Linked DNA regions of Homo sapiens: region 2 is linked to region 1. Evidence: fine-mapped expression QTL. A gene starts in region 1. The other region holds a variant in brackets. All regions are shown on one strand. Distances are from middle to middle. Region 1 holds the start of ST3GAL4 (ST3 beta-galactoside alpha-2,3-sialyltransferase 4). Region 2 overlaps ST3GAL4 (ST3 beta-galactoside alpha-2,3-sialyltransferase 4).

Region 1 (10,232 bases):
TCGCCTGCCCAGAACTCCGCGGATCCCTCAGCCTCTGCCCTCGTCAGTCCCTTGCATGACTTCCCTCCAAATGATCAGAACCCAGTGGGAACCCAGGGTATACCCCGGCTGGCCCCTAATTCTCTCCTGCCAGGAATCCCTCCTCCCAACCTGAGCAACCTCTAAGAGACAGGGAGGGCTGCCGGTGCGGAGCTTGTCTGTGGGCAAAACAGCTCACCATGTTGGAAGGAGAATTGGGTCTTTGGGAGCCTCTCTGGCCTTGAGCCAGCCCAGGACGGGCATCAAGGAGGGCCAGGCAGCCAAGGTGCTTCTGCCTGGCAGGAATCAGGATGCCAGACGCCAGGAGCAGCCACTTTGGCTGGGTTCCCTGTGCTTAGACCCCATAGGGCCCCTCCCCTTCCCCACGTGTGGCCGTGGTTGCCTTGCAGCCATGTGGGCGGCAGCCACATTTCCAAAGGAATAGGAGCTGCAGGCAGGCCAGATGGAAGCAATTGCCAAGGGAAAGCAGCAGAGGTGGGGGCTGGGGAGGCTGGGAGGGCCCACGGGGAAGGAGGGAAGGAGGGAAGGAGGGAAGGAGGGAGGGAGAAGAACCTTGTCCTGCCCCGCCCCGCCCAGCTGAGAAAGCGGACAAGCGTGTGCTCAGGGTACGGCCCGGCCGGGATGTGGGGTTCGGGAGAGCACTCAGAGGTCAGGGTTTGTGTTCCACCTTTGACACTAATACACTGTGGCCTTGAGCAAACCCCTTCACGCCTTTGAGCTGGGATCTGTTTCTTCATGGGGCAAAATGAGCAAACTCCAGGGGGCAGTTGAGAACTGGGCTGAAAAGTGAAGGTTTTGGAAGCAAGCCTGGATTTGAGTCCTAGCTCAGCTGCTTACGAGCTGTATGACCTTGGCCAAGTAACTTAATCCTTCAATCCTCCATTTCTTCATTTATAAATGGGCTTAATTACAGGGTTGTGTGAAGCTCACATGAAGGGACGTAAAGTGTCTAGCACATCTTTTTTTTTTTTTTAAGTTTATTGGGCCAGGCTTTTAATAAGTGCCTGATTGCTAAATGGTAATATTTTTGTTATTTGCTGAGGCCATTTTCATTATGGGGACAGATGTACAGATGTTCACCCATGCTGCAGTTGGCAGAGGACGCAGAGCACAAGTAGGGTCGCTGCAGACCAGCATTCCTTAGCACTCTCCAAACTGGTCCCAGCACTCTTTGGGGCTGCCTCCCCTAAACAGGAAAGCAAGATCCTGAGGACCCCAACCCCCATGCACAGGCTTGAATGAGCTGCAGGTGGGACAAAGGAACTCTCCTACTCAGGTGCTTCTGGGCTTCTGCAGCCAGGCCAGGCCTTCCTCACAATCAAGGCCCAGGTGGGAAACTGGAGGCCCAGCCAGACCCACACCTCACTTCAGCCCGAGCAGCAGCAACCTCCTCCCTGCTGGGCCAGCAGTGGCACCCAGGGCTTCAGTATAGGCAATCCTACCATCTTATCACATCCTATCACAGGGCAGTGTGGGGTACAGGGGAACAGAGATGGGGTTGTGGCCAGGCTGTAGGTCCCAGGTAAAGGGCTCAGCCAACACTAAAAACCCACAGCTCTGGACACCCACACCCTCTAACCCCGAAATGCAACAACCCAAGCAACCTTTGGGGGAATTCAGCCCCTGCAGGGCTCAGGGGCTCCAGTCAGAAAGCTGACCAGCACTTGGCTAGGGCCTGGGCATCGCACGCTGCTGCTCTCACGTGAAGCTACACTGACCACTTCCTCAGTCTGTAGAATAAAGGACATCATTCACACACCTCCCTCCCCGAAATGTGGCAGGGGTTGGGGTGATTCTGAGGCCAGGGACAGCCAGTAGTCCATCCAGGGCCACTCAGGACACTCATACAGAAGCCTCTGGGAAGGGGGCAACAAAGAAGAGGGGGTTAATAACAAGAGTCACCCAAATCTGCCTACACTCACCATTTCCTCCCGGCAACCAAAAGCTTCAGGTCAAGGTCGTGGGTCTTGAGTAGGAAGGAGGATCCCAGCGTGAGGGAAACACGGAGCGGGAGCTAAACCACCAGCAGGGGCCTGTTGCAGGGAAACGTCCAGCCGGCCCAGTGCGACTGAACTGAGGGGGCAGGAAGCAGGGGCTGTTTGCTCGGGGTGTCCCACCCTGCACTGCTGGACTGCCCCGCTCTCCAGCATCTAAGGTCCATCTCCGAGGGGCCAGGAGCTGGGCTAGGCTCTAGCGGCTGCCTTGATGGCAATCTGTAGGCTTGGACTTCAGACCCCACTTGGGGCCCAAGCTCCCTCTCCATCCCCTGCAGGCCCCCCAGCCAGCTCCTTTCCCTATCGGCCCAGGGTCTGGAACTTGGCAGGCACGGAAACATTTGTATTAGTCCAAGATAGAGGGATCCCTTCCCTCCAACAGATGGTGCAAACCTTTGAGCCATTCTGAGAAGAATTCCCAATTCCATTGGGACAACCCCAGGAGCAGCCTCTCTGAGGAGAGACCCAGAGAACGTGCCCAAGTCAGACCTGGGGTAGCCCCCAAAGCAAGGGCAGATGGTGGCCAGTGGGGAGTTAGGACAGAATGACAGCTCAAGATGGAGCACAGAAAGGGGGTTTGGTCTCTCTGCTCCTGCTGGGGAAGGGAGCCCTTTCCAGGATTAAAAGTCCAGAAAGGAGCAGATTCTTAGTTCTATCCAGAAAACCGGATTCTAGGAGTCTAACGAGGTTGGGAGGCTGGCGGGGGCACGGCACTCTCTTCCTGAGAAGCAGAGGGCCAGTCACTGCTTCCCGTAGGGAAGGCAGCCCAGAGGCACCTCAGCCTGGGCCGCCAGCTCACAGAGAAGGCGGCCCTGTTGTCTCTGAACAACAACCCATCCCCAAGCTAAAGACACCCACTCTGCCCAAAGTCCAAGCTGGCAATTTCCAATTCACTCTTCTAACTCTTCCTTCCATGTGCACCCTCACAACCTCGGTTACCATCTTGGAGTCTGGGGGATCTGGCCCCAACTCCTGGCAAGCTCCCCATGTCTTGACAGAGCCCAGGGCCCATGGGGCAGCTTAGGATCACCCACCCAGCGCAATGGGGCCAGGCACAGGAGCAGTCTGGGAGTGGGCCAGGAGCAGGGCAGGGAACGGTCAAGGGGCATTCCCAGACCAGCTCTCAGCAAGCAAAACAACCTCCCGAGTTCATTTCTAGGCCCCAAACAGCGGGCACGTCCCCGGAACCCACTCTAGAATTATCGGGCAGCTTTGGAGAGTAACAGCATGGGAGAAATATTACCAATAGTGAATATTTATACAGCTCTCCCTCCGTGCAGGCGCCTTTCAAAGCACTTAGCATATATCAACTCATTTAAAATCCCCCTGGCAGATGCCAGGGCCAGGACCTAGAGGAGGTGGAGTCTGTAGGACGGGTCCGGCACAGCTCAGGAGACAGTGACACGGGTGTGTGTCTCTTGTGAGAACTCAGCCTGTACCAGGCCTGTTCCCAAAGTTCAAAAAGAATGAGTCCGCCTGAGCCTGGCTTCCACGCGGTACCCGCCTCCGGCGGTGGAAAGTACAGGCTTCCCCAAGAGGCCTGTGGGGGGTGCCAGCTTGTGGGTGGCCATGAGGTCAGACAGGGCACAGCTGGGCACCCGAACACTGCCTACACTCCCAGCCTTCTGGCAGCAGTTCCCTTAAGCCAGGCCCTCAGGACCCAGGCTGGGGAGCAGAGGAAGCAGCCACAGTAGGTCAGGCCTCAAGCTGCCCAGACAGAGCCTCCCCCCAGGACTGGGAATGGAGGGGCAGTGCTGGCAGACATGTTGGCAGTTCTGGGCTGGCCGGGAGGTCCCTGCCAGCCAGGTCCCCGAGGAAACACCCACAGCAGACAGCTGAGCCCACTCCCCCCATCGCATCCCTCCCACTGCTCACCACCCATGCAGCCCTGAGGCACAGTGGCCTAGGCCTGACGACCCCCATAACGTGGCCCTAGGACCCTGGGCACAGCCGGCCTCCCACTGACAACTCCACCTTTGGGTCCTGCTCAGCGACCTTGCGACTCCTGCACACAGGCGGACCCCGCAAAGCCTGTCACCTCCAGCACAGTCAGCTCCCAAGTGCTGGACCTGACCGGGGTAGTTGTGGGAGAAACCATCGCTCGAGGATGCTGGAGGTGGGGGCCGCCGCTTCAGTCCGGGCGCAGGGCTGGGGGATTGGGGGCGGAAACTTTCCGCAGAACTGTCCCGCTTGCTCACTCCAAGGGAACGGAGAGGATCCGGCTTCCCGCGAAAATCTGGTCCAGGGAAAGGGACCCCGGAAAGCAGCTCCGCAGGGCTGTGGCAGCCCCACCCCGACCCGCGCTGCGCCCACGTGCAGGGCCCGACCCCCTCCGGGAGGCGCGGCGCCGGCTGGGGTCAGGCGGCCGAGGACCCCGCGGCTCCCCGCCCCGCCCCGCCCCGCGGGCCCCCGCGCACCGCCGCCGCGTACTCACCCTCACGGGTGGAGCGGGGCGGGGCAGCACGGTTCCGCGCGCAGCTCCGATCCGCTAGGCGCACCGACCGGCGGCGCAGCGCTGGCGCGACGGCTCGACTCGGCCGGGTCCCTGTCCCGGGCGCGGGTCCGGCCTGGGAGCGGGCGAGTCCGCCTGCAGGGGAGGCGGGGACCCGGGCCCGGGTTGGGGGCGGGGAAGGGGCTGGACACGCTTGCGCACACGGCGGCCCGACTCCCAGGAGCTCCCGGGAGGGGTAGAAAGGGCGGGGTGGAGGAGGGGGAAGGGCGGGGGTGATGCCGCGCGGTCGCAGGCTTGGGATGGTGTTCGCGCCTCCGAGACCCGGACAGAGGCAAGCAGGGGCGCCGTGGGTGCCAGAGAGGCGGAAGAGGAGGCCTGATGGGGTGAGCACAGGGCCAGGGCAGGCACTGCCTGTGAATGGCGCCAGGGTGGGTATGCCCAGCGCAGCCAAGGCGCTCGCTCCCGGGAACAATGAGAATCAAGAAAGGGTGCAGTGCTCTATCCCACGGGGAACGGTGTCCTTCCCTCACTGGGGAAACTGGGGCAGGGTCCTGTTCCGGGAGCCTATGCTTCCCGTGCCCCATGCACGCAAGGCAGCCAGTCAGTCCCCTGGGCCCAGACGTGGGCCCTTCCTCTGCTTCGGTTGGGGCCTGCTGCCCCTAAACTGCTCTCTCTGCACCCCTCACTTGCATACTCTTTATCTTGGCCTCAGAAAGTTTCTCAGTTTCCTTTCCGTTATTGAAGGCGCCAGGCATCCTGTCTCCAGGAAGAAACCCCTGGGCCCCTGACCCTGGTTCTTTGGACCCAGGCATCCCCCCAAATAAACCTGGGAACTGCCCAGGCTGAAGAACAGTTCAGAAGTCACCCTACAGGACAATCCACAGCCCCTTAGGCCAGTCCCTTTCACAGGTCAGCACAGTGTTTCCGGAGCCCCACGTATCAACAGCCCAGTGCCGGGAGCGCCAGGGGCTCCAAGGAAACTATCAGACCCATTCCCTGTCCCCAGGAAGCTTACCATCCAGCGGCACAGAGAAGGCTCACCATGGACTCCATTCAAGAACGAGGCAGGATAGGATGTGAATAAGTGCAAGGTGTGAGTGACTGACAGTAAGTGCAAGGGGGTTCAGAGAAGTGGCAGCTCCAAGCCTGCTTCTGCTGAAGCTGGAGGGCTTATCTGTCAAGAACCCCCAACTCAGGAAGCTCTGCTCCAAGTGAGCTGAGTAAGGAGAGTCTGCCTCCAAGTTGTTCCTCTGCAGGTGACTGTGCTCCATGCTAAATCATTCCTTGCACGGGCAGAAGCTGTTTGGCATTGCACCAGTGTCTGATTTTGTTTGAATATGGTGCCTTTGGCTTAATCAGTCAGACATGCATTCAACAACTATTTATTTATTTATTTATTTATTTATTTATTTATTATTTTGAGACAGAGTCTCGCTCTGTCGCCAGGCTGGAGTGCACTGGCGTGATCTTGGCTCACTGCAACCTCTGCCTCCCGGGTTCAAGTGATTCTCCTGCCTCAGCCTCCCGAGTAGCTGGGACTACAGGCGCGTGCCACCATGCCCAGCTAATTTTTGTATTTTTAGTAGAGACGAGGTTTCACCATGCTGGCCAGGATGGTCTCGATCTCTTGACCTTATGATCCGCCCGCCTCGGCCTCCCAAAGTGTTGGGATTACAGGCGTGAGCCATTCAACAACTATTTATTGCATGCCATCTCCAGGCCTGGAATTAAGCTGGGTATAAAGAACACAATGACTAAGTCCCTGCCTCGGGCAAGTCGAGGAAGAGGGAAGAGCCTCCTTGTTCTACAGATGGGAAGACTGGCCCAAAGGGAGTAAGCAGCTGCCCTTCATAACTAAGTGAATCTGACAGAACTGATCCAAGCGTCAGCCCAGCCTCTAAACTTGGCCATTTGATGAACTAGATCTAAGCACAGTTTGCAGTTCTTGCCGTGAATCACGTAAATGTCACTCTACCAGAAAATGGAACTTAAGAACCAGCATTTGTTCCTGGAGACCTGAGTTCCAACTCTTGTCTCTGCCACTAAATAGCTTTAGTTTTCTTACTGGGGTGGGGGGAGGGGAAAGGAAATAACTGCTTATTCAAAGGGCTATTGTTGGCATTAAATCAGGCAATGGATGCGAATTTGGTCTGAAAGCATAACCTGCTATATATAAGTGTGTGCTGTTACTATGCAGGTGGCGTGCCTTTTCTAACCTATAAGCTGTATTCAGGCCTCTCCCCCAGCTTATCCCAAGCCTGGTTACTAGGTGCCCAGAAGCTAACCGTAATTCTGCTCCCCTCAGGTTAGGCCACAATGTGCTTACTCATGATGATCTTTTCCCTCCAGTTTCTTAACAGCATGGCCACAAGCTTAGCTCACTGCCTAGAAGCCATGTCATCTTTGGGGCAGGAGGGAAGCAATTCTGGTGCCTTTCTCCTCTTCTCTTCTCTCTTTTTCTTTCTTTCTTTTCTTCCTTCCTTCTTTCCTTCCTTCCTTTCTCTCTCTTCTTGTCTTTCCATCTTTCCTTCTCCTCTTCTTTCTTTTTCTTTCTTTCCTTTCTTCCTTCCTTCTTTCCTTCCTTCCTTTCTCTCTCTTTTTCTTGTCTTTCCATCTTTCTTTCTCCTCTTCTTTCTTTTTCTTTCCTTTCTTCCTTCCTTCTTTCCTTCCTTCCTTTCTCTCTCTTTTCTTGTCTTTCCATCTTTCCTTCTCCTCTTCTCTTTTTCTTTCTTTTTCTTCCTTCTTTCCTTCCTTGCTTTCTCTCTCTCTCTTCTTGTCTTTCCATCTTTCCTTCTCTTCTCTTTTTCTTTCTTTCCTTTCTTCCTTCCTTCTTTCCTTCGTTCCTTTCTCTCTCTCTTTTCTTGTCTTTCCATCTTTCCTTCTCCTCTTCTCTTTTCTTTCCTTTCTTCCTTCTTTCCTTCCTTCCTTTCTCTCTCTTTTCTTGTCTTTCCATCTTTCCTTCTCCTCTTCTTTCTTTTTCTTTCTTTTTTTTTCTTCCTTCCTTCTTTCCTTCCTTCCTCTCTCTCTCTCTTTTCTTGTCTTTCCATCTTTCCTTCTCCTCTTCTCTCCTCTCTCCTCTCCATGTGCTTTTTTGGCCCCAGGCCCCCCTTTGGTGCAACTACAACACATGATGAGCGGCTCAGCAAGAGGCAGTAGGATGGGATAAGCAGGGCTTTGGCCCATGGGGACTGTTTCTTTTGGATGTTAACTGTGCCAAAGTGGGACCAAGGCAACCAGAGGAACAACAGGTCTTAGTCCCCTTCCAAGCCATCAGTGCTGCCTCCATTCCCATTTCCTTTGCCTCCCAAACTCTCCTGTGTTTCTGCTTGGTGGAAGTGGCAGGACACCTCTGTGCTGGGGCAACCAGAGGGGCCTCAGGAGCAGAGGGAGGAGCAGGTGCATCTAGATCTGGGAAGCCCTGGCCCTGCGGCCCCTCTCTGGCAGGAGTGGGTGTGAGCAGCAGCGTGGAACAGCTCCTGTATCATGTGCCACGTTAGCATCCTGCCCACCAAGAGGAGGAAACAGCAAGATGTGTTTGAGGAAGAAATATACCCCATCCAGCATCTCAGATGATTTTAAAAATAGCAACTCCAGGATGGTATTTCAGCTCCTATTTTTATCAGATTTATATGGCTGGACCATGGAGCTGAGCTGTTCCCAGGGTTCTCAGTAGCAAGGGACATCACTCTTGTAGTGTTAGCTGAAATGCATTCCAGGAACCTGTAGGCTGAAAGAGATCCTGAGAAGTCATTGCACACAGCCCCTGCCTCTGTTTAGGACCACAGTCAGTTAACCACCAAAAGTTTACGGCTTTTTTCCTTGAAACCTCTTGGTTGGCCAGGAGTGTTGGCTCATGCCCGTAATCTCAGCACTTTGGGAGGCCGAGGTGGGTGGATCACCAGAAGTCGGAATTTCGAGACCAGCCTGGCCAACATGGTGAAACCCCATCTCTACTAAAAACACAAAAATTAACTGGGCGTGGTAGTGGGTGCCTGTAATCCCAGCTACTCAGGAGGCTGAGGCAGGAGAATCACTTGAACCCGGGAGGCGGAGGTTGCAGTGAGCCGAGATTGAGCCACTGCACTCCAGCCTGGCAACAGAGTGAGACTGTCTCAAAAAGTAAATAAATAGAAACTCTTGGTTCCATGCGTAGTCTAGCATTTTGTAGCACTTCTAATCACGAAGTTATTTTTAATATTTGTTTGGTCTGTTATACAAAATGTAGACTGGATGGCTTATAAACTACAGAAATCTCTCACAGTTCTGTAGGCTAGAAAGTCTAAGATGAAGATGCCAGCAGCCTGCTTCCTGGTTCATACAAGGTCATCTTCTCACTGTAACCTCACAGTGAGAGGAAGGGCCTAGGGGTGACTCTGGGATCTCTTTTATGAGGCACTAATCCCATTAATGGGGGCCCCCCACCCTCATGGCCTAATCACCTCCCAAAGGCCCCACGATTGCCTTGGGTGTTAGGATTTCCACATATGAATTTTAGGGGAACACAGACGTTCAGGCCATAGCAAATATCTTGCCCAAATATCTCTAGTTCCATCCTTTTGGTCACTCTCAGACCAGAACATTTACTGAGTGATTACTATGTCCCACAAAATTCTTATTTAACCCTCAGAAAAACCGTCTGGGGGAAGCATTGTTATCACTCCTATTTCATGAGCAGTTATGTAACTTGCCCCAGATAAGACTTGGTTATGGCACAGATTCTGTGTTGGAGCCTTCAGACCACTCTACTTCCCAAGCAGGGGAGGAACAGAACATTAAAGATTTTCTTGGCCTTGGCTTTCATTTCTTCATCGTGGTTCTGAAAGGAAAATTGGCTACAGTCTTAAATGTATGTGTGGGCCCACGCTAGAAGCTCAGCTCTCAGTGCCAGCCACACTGAGCCCTGGTCTCCCTAACTTCCGGGCCTTTACTCTGCTTGTCATTGGGCTGATAACCAAGATCCAGCCTAGAGCACAAGAAGACAAACGCTGCGTGATCTCGTGTGTAGAACCTAACAAAGTGGAACTCACAGAAGCAGAGAGTAGAATGGTGGTTGCCTGTTGGAATGGGGAGATGGTCAGAGAATGCAAACTTTCAGTTGGATGGGAGGAAGAAGTTCCAGAGATCTATTGTGCCACATGGTGACAATAGTTAATAACAATGTACTGGGCGGGGGGTGGTGGCCTACGCCTGTAATCCCAGCACTTTGGGAAGCTGAGGCAGACAGATCACTTGAGGTCAGGAGTTCTAGACCAGCTTGTCCAACATGGTGAAACCCCGTCTCTACTATAAAACTACAAAATTAGCCAGGTGTGGTGGTGTGCGCCTGTAATCTCAGCTACTTGGGAGGCTGAATCGCTTGAACCCAGGAGGTGGAGGTTGCAGTGAGTCGAGACTGCGCCACTGCCCTCCAGCCTGGGTGACACAGTGAGACTCTGTTTCAAAAAAACAAAAAAAGCAATGTACTGTATACTTGAAAATTGCTCACAGAGATTTTAAATGTTCTCACCATTACAAAATGATAAATATGTGACATAATGCATATGTTAATTAGCCCGATTTAGTGATTCCACAGTGTATACATATAACAAAACATGTTGTACACCATAAATGTATACTATTTTTATTTGCCAATTAAATATATTTTTTTAAAGTTTTAGCCTGCAGGTTTAGCTTTTTGGGGCTGAAGCCCCATAGCCCCCTCCACTTCAACACACTCATCAGCATTGTAATTACTTTGTAATTAATGC
Region 2 (8,000 bases), 41 kb before region 1:
CTGTAGCTGCCACATCCCTTTTCCACCTTTATTAAGGTGCCTGCTATGGTTTGAATGTGTTGCCCGAAGTCCAAGTGCTGCAACTTGATCCCCAGTGCAACAGTATAAGCAGGGCCTAATAAAAGGTGTTTAGATCATGGGGCTCTGCTCTCATGGATGGGTTAATGCCATTACTGTGGAACTGGGTTCCTTATAAAAGGCCAGTTAGGTCCCCTCTTGATCTGTCTTGCCATTCCACTCTCCACCATGGGATGATGCAGCAAGAAGGCCCTTGCCAGAGCAGCCCCTTGATCTTGGACTTCCCAGCCTCCAGAACCATGAGCCAAATAAAATTCTATTCATTATAATATACTCAATCTGTGGTATTCTGTTACAGCAGCACAAAATGGACTAAGACAGAAAATTGGTGCCAAGAAGTGGAGAGGGGAGAGGAAAGCAGGGGAGGGGAGGGAAAGGAAGAAAAGAGAGAGAGAGCAGAGAGGAAAGAAGGAAGGGAGGGAGGGAGGCAGGCAGGCAATAAAGCGGGATTAGAAGATCTGTAGGGAAAGTCTGAAACTTCTTAGACTAAGTGGTTGTGATCAGAATGGTGGTAGAAATATCGATCGTGAAGGCCATTCTGATGAGGTCTCAGATATATCTGAAGATTAAGGTACTGGAAACTGGCATAACAGTCATCCTTGTTACAAAGCAGCAAAGAATGTGGCTACATTGTGTCCAGGTCCTCAAACTGTATAGCAGGCAGAACTTAAGAGTGATAAACTAGGCTATTTGGTGGAAGAAATACCTAAGCAGCAAAGCATTTTGGTTGCTGTATGACTTATTTTAACTGTATACTGTAAAACTTGAGAAGAAATAAATAATTTAAAGATGAAACTTATAAATAAAAGCAGGGTTGGGCGCAGTAGCTCACGTCTGTAATCCTAGCACTTTGGGAGGCTGAGGCGGGCGGATCATTTGAGGTCAGGAGTTCGAGACCAGCCTGGCTGACATGATGAAACCCCATCTCTACTAAAAATACAAAAAAATTAGCTGGGTGTGGTGGCACACACCTGAAATCCCAGCTATTAGGGAGGCTAAGGCAGGAGAATGGTTTGAACCCAGGAGACAGAAGTTGCAGTAAACTGAGATCGTGCCACTGAACTCCAGCCTGGGCAACAGAGTGAGACTCCATCTCAAAAAAAAAAAAAAAAAAAAAGAAGGAAAGAAAGAAAGAAATTTATAATGAAAAGCGAAACAGAACTTAGAGACTGGAAGGATTCTGAGACCGGCCCTGTAGTAGAGAATGAAAGAACTTTCAGGAGAGGAAAGCAAGGGTGCAGGCATGTTACCGTTTGATAGTTTAATAAGAATATTAGTATGGACCACTTGATAAGGAGATTAGTATTGGCCAGAGCCACAGTTTGATAAGGAGATTAGTACAATAAGAATGAAGCCAGAGGCTATTCATCAAGAAAATAAGAATGATCCCAAAGGTACTGCAGAGATGACCTGTGATCACAGCTCCGGCAGTGCCAAAATCTGAGGGAAGGAACTATGTCAAAAGCCAGGTCTTGGGAGCCCTCAGGACCTGTGGCTCACTGTCCAGGGCCACCTCAAGTCTCTGCTCCCACATTTGGGCACAGTGCTCCTCTGCCTCCCCAGCCATGGCTTAAATGGGCCCAGGTGCAGCTTGACCTACCATTCTAGAAGGTGCAAGTGGTGAGTCTTGGTGGCATCCCACATGGTCCTAATGCCACCAGAGTACAGAATGCAGGGGCTATGGGCCTGGCTCCCTCCAACTAGATTTCAAAGGATATTGCGGACAGACTCGGGACCCAGGCAGAGACTGGTTGCAGGGTCAGAGCCACCACCAGGGAGCCCCTGTAGGGCAATGCCCAGCAGAACTGTGGAGTCTGAGCTGCTGAGAGTCCCCAGGAAGCCTAGTGGAGCTGTGGGAGTAAGGCCATCCTGACACCCCAGAACTGCAGAGCTACCAGTGTGCAACAGCAACCTGGGGGAGCTGCAAGCATGAGACTCCAACCGGTGAGAGCTGCTGCATGGAATGAGCCCAGCAAGGCCAGGGAAGCAGGGCTGCCGGAGGCCTTGGGGGCCCAAGTCCCTACCCGAGTGTGTCTGGAAGGCAGGACATGGAGTCAAAGAAGATTATTGTCAAGTTGGGATTTGGTATTGTTCCCCCTGCTGGGTTCTGGAGTTGTCTGGACCAGTTGCCCCTTTCTTCTTGCCTATCTCTCCCTTTTGGAATGGAATATCTGTCCTATGCCTGTCCCATCACTGTACTTTGGAAGCAGACAACTTGCTTGATTTCACAGCCCATGACTGGAGGGGAATTTGATTCAGGATGAACCATACCTTGAGTTTTACCCACAGCTGACTTAGATGAGACTGTGGACTTTGGACTTTTAATGTGGTGCTGAAACAAATAAGAATTTGGGATTATAGGTAAGAAGCAAATGTATTCTACATGTGACAAGGACATCCATTTTGGGGACTGGGGCAGAATGCTATGGTTTGAATGTGTCCCTCAAAGTTCATGTGCTAGAAACTTGATCCTAAATGTTAACAATGTTGTGAGGTGGGGTCTCATAAGAGTAGGCCATGAGGGCTCTGTTCTCATGAATGGGTCAAGGGCTCTGTTCTCATGAATGGGTTTAATGCCATTATTACAGGAGTGGGTTCCTTATAAAAGGACAATTAGGCCCCTTCCTGCTCTCTCTCTCCACCTTGCCCTTCTTCCATCCACCATGAGACAATGCAGCAAGAAGACCCTCACCGGATGTGTCCTCTAGATCTTGGACATCCGAGCCTCCAGAACTGTGAGCCAAATAAACTTCTGCTCCTTATAAATTACCTACTTGGTGGTAATGGCAGCACAAAACAGACTAAGATAACATCCTAACCCTCCACATCCCGCTCGCTGGGACCATCCCACTCTGGTAATATCGGGCTGAAATGGTTCCTCTCCTACGAAGGCTTGACTTATACTTCCAAATGACTGATGTTTTGGTTCCCATGAGACGTTGTTTATACCTTAATTTCAGCACTTAGAGGTAACAAAATTTTATATTATACAAGGTTTTCATGTCTTGCCCACTATCCCATGACCTCTGAGATTGGAGACATTTTTATACCAAGAGCCCACCAGAGTTAAGTGTACTATAGAATATGCTTTATGGTACAATGTAACTTTGTGTTATATCATTCTGTGCTTTCCTAGCTTGCCTAAATGACCTCTGTGGTCAGGAACTTCTTTGTATCTCCAGATTCTATTAAACTGCCAAGAATGTAGCAGATGTTTTACAAACATCTGACAAATAAGTAATAACATGTGAATAAAGATGTATTGCATGTTCCACTAACAACTGAAATGTACTGCACGCTCAAAACGCGAAACCAGGATCTCTCAATCTCTGCACCACTGACTTGGAGGGGCCAGAGAGTTCACTGTTGCGGGGTCTGTCTTGTGTATTATGGGGTGTTTAGCAGCCATCTCTGGCCTCTACCTACTAGACACCAGTAGGAAATCCCTCTTCTCAGGTGTGACAAAGTGTTTCCAGACATTTCCAAATGCTGAGGACCACTGTGCTAGACACTTCTAAGGGCTGTGAAAGTGTTAAATATGATCTCGACCCTGTGAGTTCAACACGATAATTACCTCCATTGTAGAGCCAGGGAACTAAGGTGGGAAAGGGGTCAGTAACCGGCCCAGGTTGTACAGCTCGTGAGGAGTGGAGCTGGCACTGGAATTCTGGCTCCTTCAGCCAGAACCTCCACATCCTACGGCTTCTAAAACCATCCCGTGCAGACTGGCTCCCTAGACTCCACGATCCCCGGGATGTCCACCCCTGCCCTACACAGCAATTAGGGGAAGGGGTCTCAAGCACATCCAAGTCCTTCGAAGGCTCCGCACAGTGACGAAGAGCCTGTCGAGCCCCTTCTCAGCCACGCTTCCGCACGAGACACAGTCTCTAGCCCCCACAGCCCTGGTGCTCTCTGGAAGCTCTGCAGTACGTGTTCAAGGCACACAGCTGTATTCATGGGACCACTAATGCCTGCCAGCTGGACACCAGACTTCCATGAATCCGACCATTTTTTGCAGCCACATCCCACCACTGGCATGGACTGACTCTCTCCGCTGTAGGCCAGGTCTCCCGGGCTGCGGACTCCTCTGGCTTCCCTGCCGAACCTCAGCGCGGGCCTGGGCTGTACCTGCTTCCACACATTCCACAGCCTGTCCAGGAGTCAGTCTCCACAGTGTCTGCCAACCCACAGCGATTCCTCTCGGCTTAGTGTCCGCTGCCCACGTTCTAGAGGGGACTCAAGCTGGACTGTGCATTTGACGTCATTAATACAACTGCCAGGTACAGTGAGCGCAGGCTACGGGCTGGGGAGTTCTCCCACAGGGTTAGAATCCACCCGATCAACACTCGGATACAGACGGTCCGCTAATTGCAAGTGCCAAGAACAGACCGGTCATCTGTAAAACTCCTCCTCAGCCCCAAAACCCCATGGACTCTTCTCACTCACGGGGAGAGCCCGGGTCCTTGCTCTGA[T/C]GCACAGAGACACATGTGCTCTACTGGCCAGCACCTCCTCCCTCCTTGCCAACTCCTCCCAACACAGGCTGCCTGCGTTAGTCTGTTTTCGTGCTGCTGATAAAGACATGCACGAGACTGGGAAATTAATAAAGAAAAAGAAGTTTAATGGACTCACAGTTCCACGTGGCTGGGGAGGCCTGACAATCATGGCAGAAGAAAAAAAGTATATCTTACATGGCAGCAGGCAAGAAAGAAGGACAGCCACGTGAAAAGGGAAACCCCTCATAAAACCATCGGCTCACCTGACACTTACTACCAGGAGAACAACTTGGGGGAGAACACCACCATGATTCAATTATCTCCCACCAGGTCTCTCCCATGACACATGGGAATTATGGGAGCTACAATTCAATATGAGATTTGGGTGGGGACACAGCCAAACCGTATCACTGCCCAACCCACACCAGCCTCACCAGGTCTAGGGGGCTAGCTAGGCATGCTCCCTCCTCTGGGCCTTTGCGATTTATGCTCACTCAGTCTAGAATGCTTTTCTGTAGACATGGGCCTGGCTATCTCTCTCCGTCCAGCTCTTTACTCAGCTTCTCTACTTCCCAGCAACAACTCCACACACCCAACACTGCAGGCCCCCTCCCCTGCTTGCAAAGATGTTTCTCTTGTTTTGCTTGCTGCTGTATCACCCATGTTGACAATAGTGCCCGGCACCCAGCAGGCTCTCAATACAAACGTGTTGAATTAATAAATGGATCTGTTCATCAGATGGCATTGCCCCAGTGCAGGTGGAACAGAGTGGAAGAGGCAGTGACAGTAGGTCAGATATCTTCTGGCCCCTGTGGCACAGCCCCTGGCTGGACGCTGTAGCCTCACCCCATCATTGAACACTGTGATCACAGCACGCCTGGGCACGGGGAGGCTTCCTGGCTCATTAGAGTTGGCAGAGAGCACAGTGAGTAACTGACCAGCTAACTGCCTCAGGGTCATGCATGGGAGGATGGAAACATCTCTCAAGCTGTCTGACCTTAGAGGGAAAGGAGCCAGACAGGCTTCCACCTACAGCAAAAGAAGACTCTCTGTTCCCACCCTCGGGCTCCACAGGCTACCCACCCACCCCCCACCATCCGCCCCTGCAGCCTGGCACTGCAGACTCCTGTACAGAAACATTGTATCACCCGTTTATCAGCTGCCAGTCACAAGACACCAACCACTTGAAAATCATACCCAGGGCAGGGCCCCGTGCCTCATGCCAGTAATCCCAGCACTTTGAGAGGCCGAGGAGGGCAGATTGCTTGAGCTCAGGAGTTCAAGAACAGCCTGGGCATCATGGTGAAACCCCATCTCTATAAAAAATACAAAAATTAGCCGGGCATGGTGGCATGTGCTTGTAATCCCAATTACTTCAGAGGCTGAGGTGGGAGGATCACTTGAGCCCGGGAGGTGGAGGCTGCAGTGAGCTGAGATCAGGCTACTACACTCCAGACCAAGTCAGATCCTGTCTCAAACAAAAAGAAAAGAAAAAAGAAAATCATATCCTGGTGCCTGCCTGAGAGGGGCAGAGGCTTTGAATTCCCTTCTCAGGGTGAAAAAGCTGAAGCCACTGTGACGAGGTGGGAGTCAAGAGAGCAGGGCCAGGCCCAGGATACAGGAGAAATCCAGGGCCTGTGTGGACCTGCCCCAGGTCCTGGTCAGGGGCTCCCGGGCGCTCCTCCCTCCCAGGAGAAGCAATGCACCCACCCCAAGGATCTAAAGCCAAAGGTACCAGTGTCTGGGGCTGGAATCTGGCTTCCCACCAGCACAGCCAATCCCCTGCTTCCAGCACAGCCAGTGCCCTGCCTCCCCTGACCCCAGATGCCTGCTGTGAGAATGGTGGACTGCACCAGCCCCACCACATCCCACTTGGTCACCCCAGTCCCAGGCCACTGAGTATTTGCAATGGGGCCAGTCCACACTGACATGTGCTTTAAGTGGAAAATACACACCGGATTTCAAAGATTTAGTACCCCAAAAAAAGAATAAAATATCACCTTCATTATTTTATGCTCATCCCATGTTGAAATGCCAAGATTTTGGCTATATTGGGTTAAAATATTAAAACGAATTTCACCTATTTTTACTTTTTAAAACCGTGGCTAAATTTAAATGTTTTAAAAGTAATTTAAAATTACATGTGGCTTGTATTTCTGGCTCCCATTCTATTTTGACCGGACACTGTTGGGCTAGAAAATCTCCAGGATTCCTGCTAGCTCACACTTCCTATGACCTGAAGACGGTGGTGTCCACCCTCAAGTGCCTACTGGAAGCACCAGGAGAGTTTATTAAGCTTCATCGGCTCCCAAGGCTCCACTTCAGAAAGGCTAAATTAGGAGGGCTGAGATGCCTGTGGAGGGGTCCCGCTTATTCTGACTCGTTTGACTCTGATGTGCAGTCAAAGCACATCAAAGTCAAAAAGACCTCACTCTCCCCGTCCCCATCCCCCTCCTCCTGAGCCATCTGGGCCCTGGGTATGGAAACACATTCAAGGTGACATTGCTCCCCCGGCCCACACAATCACCTCTACTCTGCCTAAACCCAACCTCTTCTGGACCCCCTGATATCCTGCCCCAGTGCCTGCAAGGGGCGGGCCACCCAGCTACCCACCTCACATACCTTGCCAGCCCACGCAGTTGGGCAGCCATGTTTGAGTTAGCAAGCAGGTCAGATGAAACTGGTTCACCTGAGCCTTCTCTCCTCTGGCCAAGACCTGTGCCCTAGGCACTGGCTACCGAGACTAAACCCTGTCTCTGCTACTTGCAAGGCATGTGACTGCAGACTCTGCCCCGTCTCTATAAAAATAAAAATAAAATTAGCCGGGTGTGGTGGCACACACCTGTAGTCCTAGATACTTGGGAGGCTGAGACAGGAGGACCCCCTGAGTCCAGGAGATCGAGGCTGCAGTAAGCTATGATCGTCCCCCTGCACTCTAGCCTGTCTCAAAAAAAAAAAAAAAAAAGAACAGGAGTTGGTCGTGTTACAAATGTTGAGAGATCTGGAATCAGTGGTTGGGACCCAAGCCCAGACCTCTCTTCCGGCCTCCTCTCCTCCCAGCCACAGTTTCCTCCCTGCATGGGGTTCAGACCACCCAGTCCAGAGAAGCTTCCTCACTCCCCCACATCCAGCTCTGTCACATCATGCTGCTTTATTAACTTTGTGGCAGTTAAACCACACTGTCCCAAGTACCAATTAGACCACGCACTCCCAGCAAGCAGGGACTTCTTATGTCCCATAGTATCTCCAGCACTAAATTTAATGCCTGACACATGGTAGATAACTGACAAATATTTAAATGAATGGAGGTCTGAATTCATCAGCAAACAATAAGATGACTGTGAGCAGCAAGTTGCATCAAGTTAAAACAAGCCAGGCTTATTCTGAAAAGACCTGGGCATCTAAGGCACAAGGGGCTTGCTAGAAGCT

Evidence for each region.
Region 2: its variant is fine-mapped to the expression of ST3GAL4 in visceral fat (GTEx, PIP above 0.99).

What each region holds. Positions count from the first base shown.
Region 1 is chr11:126,350,078-126,360,309 of GRCh38, reverse strand. It overlaps ST3GAL4 (ST3 beta-galactoside alpha-2,3-sialyltransferase 4), which reads right to left and starts at 4,624. Exons shown (of 11, transcript NM_001254757.2): 1 at 4,468-4,624. GSEC (G-quadruplex forming sequence containing lncRNA) reads left to right here and starts at 4,723. Exons shown (of 2, transcript NR_033839.1): 1 at 4,723-4,868. RefSeq lists enhancers at 1,275-2,016, 3,666-3,815, 3,503-4,246, 4,247-4,988, 4,989-5,732 and a silencer at 4,406-4,785.
Region 2 is chr11:126,392,497-126,400,496 of GRCh38, reverse strand. The region is part of intron 1 of ST3GAL4 (ST3 beta-galactoside alpha-2,3-sialyltransferase 4); the gene reads right to left. Among named protein-coding and RNA genes, the nearest start is that of ST3GAL4, 41 kb to the right of the region's middle. RefSeq lists an enhancer at 5,842-6,769. The variant T/C (reference allele first, on the strand shown) is at 4,551.